Linked DNA regions of Homo sapiens: region 2 is linked to region 1. The links come from fine-mapping of genetic effects on gene expression. A gene starts in region 1. The other region holds a variant in brackets. All regions are shown on one strand. Distances are between the middles of the regions. Region 1 holds the start of TAS2R19 (taste 2 receptor member 19). Region 2 holds the start of TAS2R20 (taste 2 receptor member 20).

Evidence for each region. PIP is the estimated chance that this variant, and not a neighbour inherited with it, causes the effect. A credible set is the group of variants that fine-mapping cannot tell apart.
Region 2: its variant is the best candidate, but not a certain one, in a credible set for the expression of TAS2R19 in spinal cord (GTEx, PIP 0.55).

Annotation. Positions count from the first base shown.
Region 1 is chr12:11,021,483-11,024,410 of GRCh38, forward strand. It overlaps TAS2R19 (taste 2 receptor member 19), which reads right to left and starts at 1,138. Exons shown (of 1, transcript NM_176888.2): 1 at 137-1,138. The coding sequence starts at 1,089. The coding sequence ends at 190. All of the region lies in intron 3 of PRH1-TAS2R14 (PRH1-TAS2R14 readthrough), which reads right to left. The region is part of intron 3 of PRH1-PRR4 (PRH1-PRR4 readthrough); the gene reads right to left. It also overlaps a transcript of PRH1 not described here.
Region 2 is chr12:10,997,628-11,000,555 of GRCh38, forward strand. The region is part of intron 3 of PRH1-TAS2R14 (PRH1-TAS2R14 readthrough); the gene reads right to left. It overlaps TAS2R20 (taste 2 receptor member 20), which reads right to left and starts at 677. Exons shown (of 1, transcript NM_176889.4): 1 at 1-677. The coding sequence starts at 248. All of the region lies in intron 3 of PRH1-PRR4 (PRH1-PRR4 readthrough), which reads right to left. It also overlaps a transcript of PRH1 not described here. The variant T/C (reference allele first, on the strand shown) is at 1,373.

The DNA of each region.
Region 1 (2,928 bases):
ACACATATACACCCATAAATATATATATGACTTTTCTAGGTATCTGTTTTGAAATTACTCACATACAAACACTATGGAAAAACTGATAGAAATATAAAATGTTCCAGACACCATCAGTTTGTTTTCTGCTAGAAGACCCACGATGCTCCCCTTGTGAATCTATGGAGTTGAGGGTTTCTCTTCTTTCACTCAGCGTGTCATCTGCCACAAAACTGAAAGAAAGGTCTGTTTTAGCTTCCTACTTCCCATAATCAGGATGAATGAGTGGAATGAAGGATACATGATTGCAACAGTTTGGCAAAGCAGGAGTACAAGTTTGCTCTGCTGTGTCCTAAGATTCCAAGTTGATGTGATTATACACAGAAAGTAAATGGCAAATAACATGAGGAAGGAGGTCACAGTTTGCAAAGCTTTTATATGGACCTTGGTGCTGGGATCTTGAGATCCTTTGCTATGGAGCCGCATCTTCTTGAGATGTTTACAAAGAGAACAGATTAACAGCAGAAAACATATTAGGCTCAGAGTAAAGGGTATGAGGTTTGCTAGAGTAGTTACAGTCAAGCTTGAAAGGTGTATTGCATTCCTCAATTTGATCTTCCAAGTCACATTTCCTTCATATTCTTTTGTCCACACTCTCTCATCCATGGTTATCACAGCAAGATTACAAATCAGAAATACCAAGGGCCCCAACAGTATCACCAGAACAACACTCTTAATTCTCTTCTTTAGGTGGAGAGAAATAAGGTTGGAGAAATTGGCAATCTTGAGCAAACAAAATATGCTGAGGCTAGCAGCAAGCCACATGCTGAAATGGTTCGTTACAGCCCAGGCATTAGAAGCAACAATTCTTACTTCTAAACCATATAAAGCAGAATTAAACACAGTTGCATACCAAAGGAATAACATGACCCAGAGTAAACCAATTCTGGAGACCACCAGAGCAGTGAGAATTTGCTCAGCTGAGGAGATCTTTCGTGTGTTAACCCAGTCAATGACATTTACTAGGGCTATGAAGCCATTGGCAACATTTCCAAGAACAAATGCAAACACTACCAGAATTGATGAAATGATGAGCAGAAAACACATCATGTTTGAACAGATAAAAAAATGCAGGCTTAGTAACACTTGTTCTGAGTCCTTTAACATCCAGATGTTAACTTCGATGAACACTTGATTACTAAATGTGCAATAACATTTTCTGCCTTTAAATTCAGTGACTAGTGTCAACAGGCAAGCACCAGCATATGCTAATAGATGAATTCAAAACTGTCTTTATAGAAATAGAAAAGGTCATTATTCTCAAAACAGCTCAAATTCACTCCTCTTCATATACATTCTCTCCTTGCTATATGCTGTACTTTTTTATACTGAGGTTGAAGTGGAAAATGAATTCTCATGTGTTAGTATGCAAAGAAAGGCATATTATTTTTCATTGTTTTGCAATTTTTTTCCTTGTTTAACCTCTCCATAATTTGTATACAGCATCTTCAGTTGTTCCATAGGGAAATTGTAAAACCCAATACATATATCATATAGTAAATGTCTAAATTGTTAAAGGAGCTTGGTCATAACTAGGATCATACCAATATGGACTTATTTTTATGCCAGATTTAAATACCAGATTCTAAACCTTTTATCAAAATCATCCAAGATTATCTTGGAAATCCCTGGGAGGCTGATACACTTTAAAATCTGGTTTCTGATAACCAATAAATTGATATGACATCATTGTTAATAAGCTCCTAAACACATAGACACACATGCACTCACACCCTTAGGGCATGGAAGGAATTATTTTCTTATAATTCCCCAAATGGAAAATGAGTTTCCAGGAACTCATCCAGGTGGTATTAGTCTTATTTTCCAACTCAGGGCTGTCAGACAATGAATAATATTTATCAAACATGTTTCTCAAGCTTAGGCCTTTGGTATATTTACACTCAAGTCTGTTTTGTTTAAACATTAATTATTTAATTAAAATGTTCAGCAATTTTGTAAATATTTCTAAGTACCCTACTCTTTGTCACATAATCCTGCAGTACCCTCCCACCTCAGGCAGGGTGACTACCTTGACCTTGGACTCTGAATTCACTCACGTAATTTGCTTCAGTCAACAGGAAATTAGTAGAATTTACAGAGATTTAAGATGGCTTCCATATTGAAGTTTCCTGCTCTTTTCCACTAACCATGAGGACATCATCTGGCTAGCACACTGTTCCCAGAAGAAGAAAGAGAAACTAATGGAGTCAGAATGCCACTGCCTTATCTACCCTAAATCAGCCAAACTAGCGGCAAGATGCAGTACGTGGCCCATCTCCAATCACCAGAGCCATCCACCAAACCTAGGTTAGAAAAATGTAATCCAAAGACATAATGATACACAATTATCTAACTCAGTTTTCTCTTGCAGAAAAACATAAGTGATGTAGGTATTCTGCTAAATCAGGAGTGTGGGAAATATGCCCACCATTGTTGTGTCAGGAATTCAGGATCGAAGGAAAAAATAGAGAATGTCCAAGTTTTGTCATATGAAGTGGGTAATTAAACCTAAAAGAAAAACCTATTCAGAAATCTGTGGTTGGCAGGTAACATCATGTCAAGTTTCCTAAAGTTGCAACTAAAATCAGAAAGTTTCTACTTAAAATCTCTTAGAGTTACACATGAATGTATACAAATAGTGGATTTTTCCCTTCAGTATATAATGAGCAGAGTAATAATAATTTTCATGGACCATTTCTCCTAATTAATAATTTTTATCATATAGCTAGACTGCACACTTAGAAATGAACCAAAACAAAAATGGAAAACATAGCAATGTGTCATAAACACTCATGTAACCATCATGTAGGGCAAGACATGGAACATTGCTAAGAGCCTAAGTTTACCTCAATGCCACTTTCTAATTCCCTACACCTTTCTTCATGTCTC
Region 2 (2,928 bases), 24 kb before region 1:
AAAATTATTACTTTTAAATTAGATGAAGTTGGATTCAACACAGTTGAATACCAATGTAATAATATTACCCAGAGCAAACCAACTCTGGAGACTGCCAGAGCAGCAATAATTTGATCAGCTGAGGAGATCTTTTGTCTCTTGACCCAGGCAATGAAATTTATCAGTGCTATAAAGCCATTGGCAAAATTTCCAAGAATAAATGCAACCACTACTAGAATGGAAAAAACAATGTGTAGAAAACTCATCATGTCTAAACAAAAAAGCAAGTAAAAAATTCAGGCCTAATGTCACTGATGGTGACTCCTCTGATATTCAAGACTTTAAGTTAAATATGCACTTGATTCCTGAATGTCCAATAACATTCTTTATACTTTTAAATTCTGTGAACAATGTCAACAGAAAAGCACCAGCTTAAACTAATGAATGAGTTCAATGCTGCCTTTATGGGAAATACTGTTAGTCCCAAAACAACTCAAATTAATTCTTATTCATAAAGTCTCTATTCTTGCTATAGGCTGAAATTTTTCATACTGATGTTGAAGGGAAAGCTGAATTCTCATTTGCTAGCATTCAAATAAAGACATATCCTCTTTCATTGCTTTGCAATTTTTTCCTTGTTTCACCTTTCCATAATTTGTGTTCAGCCCTTCAGTTGTTGGGGAAATTTTAATACCCAGTACATAGATGACACAAAAAATATATTGTTAAAAGAGCCTGGTGAAATCTAGGATCAAAATCACTATGGATTTATTTTTAAAGCCAGATTTAAATACACAGAATCTAAACTTTTTATCAAAATCACCTAAGATTTTCTTGGAAACCACAGGAAAGCCAATACTCCTTATAATTTGGTTGCTGTTAACCAATACTTCTATATGGCATCACTATTAACAAGCTCATAAACACACACACAGACACACACACACTTTCACTCTTCAAGGATGGAAGGAATTGCTTTCTTGTAACTTATGACATGGAAAATGAGTTTCCAGGAGCTCGTCCTGGTGGAATTAGTCCTATTTTTCCCATGCCAGATTTTCAGCCAATGAATAATATTCATGAAACATATCTCTCATGCTTAGGCTTTTGGTAATGCTACCTGCAAGCTTGTAAACATTCCTGAGTACCAGACCTTTGTCACATAATTTTGCAGTGTCCTCCCACCACAGGCATAGTGACAACCTTGCACTAGGGCTCTGAGTTCGATCATGTAATTTGCTTTGATGAACAGAAAATTACTACACTTTACATCGAAATTTGAGATGACCTCCACATTAGGCTTTCTTGTTCCTTTCCGGTTTATAATGAGAACATGTCCACACTAACACACTGTTCCCAGAATAAGAATGAGTAACTCATGGAATCATATGGC[T/C]CCTGCCTGATCCAGCCTTAAATCGGCCAAACTCTAACTAGATCCAAGAGGCAAAACTTGGACCATCTCAAATCACCAGAGCCATCCACCAAACCCCAGCTTAAGAAAACAGAATCCAAAAACATGTGAGATATAAATATCTAATGTGGTTTTGGAGAAGTTTCTTTTGCAGAAAAAGCTAAGTGATATAGGTACTCTGCTAATCCAAGAGTTTGAGAAATATGTGCGCCCTTGTTGTGTCAGAAATTCAGGAGCCAAAGGAAAAATAGGTTGGAAATATCAAAGTTTTTGTAATATGAGGTGAATATCTAAAACTAGAAGAAAACTTTTGGAAAGATCTGGAGGCTGTAGGTAACAGCATCTCAAATTTCTCCATTTTGCAACTAAAATAAGAATTCACTTTAGCTCTCTTGAGTTGTATAAGAATGTACGTAAATGGTGGATTTTCCCCCTAGGTATATAATGAGCAGAGCAATTAATAATTTTTACGTGACATTTCTCCCAATTTGTAATTTTTTAAATAAAATTATAATGCACACTTAGAAATGGGCCAAAACAAAAATAGGTAAGAGCAATGTATCATAAACACTTATGTAACCATCATGCAGGATAAGACATGGAACACTGCAAACAGACTAGGTCCACTTCCAGGCCACTTTCCAAGCCCCTAAACCTTTATTCACATCTCCTGAGATAAGCAATATTCATAATCTATGATGATCATTTGCTTGAATTTCTTTATACTTTACCAGCTAGGTTCACAACCCTAAACTCCACAGCTTGGTCTGTCCTGCTTTGAACTGTGTATAGGTGCAGTCCTGTGTGTTCTTCTTGTTCATGGCTTCTTGCACTAGATATCATGTTTCTGAAATTTAGTTACATAGTTGCATGTACATGTGATTCATTTCTTTTCACCTCTATATACTGTTCCACTGTATGGATTTACTGTAATCTTTCATATCATTCAATCATCCTTAGTTAATATATATTTGGGCAGTCTATTTTTGAGCTATTATGAATAATACTACTATCAGCATTATTTCACATATCATTTGATGCAATTCCTATTATGGGGTCATTAAATGTGGTGTTCAAATTATCCTCACAGACATAGAAAAGTGCAAAAAATAATTTATCTAAATTTGTTCCTGTCACCTTTACCTCCAGTCTCTTTATCGCTATTTGCATATATCTTATCAATAATATATTTAACTCAGCAAGACGCTATTATTTTATTCAGTCAACATTCATTTAGAATTATGCACATATTTATCATTTCTGTTAATTTTTATTCCTTCTTGCATGCTTAACCTTGTATTTTCAATATTTTTTATCTGAAAAATATCATTTGGATTTCTGTTTATGAAGGTCCTCTATTCTTTTGAAACACACTAAAGACATGATTCCATTGAATTCTACTTTCCATTTTTCTGTTGAAAATCAGGTTGTCATTTAGAAAGTTGTTCCTTTTAAAATAATCTATCTTTTCCTCTGGCTACTTTTCAGATTTTCTACTGGTCTTTGATGTCTTGTGACATTTTATGTTAATTTGTTTT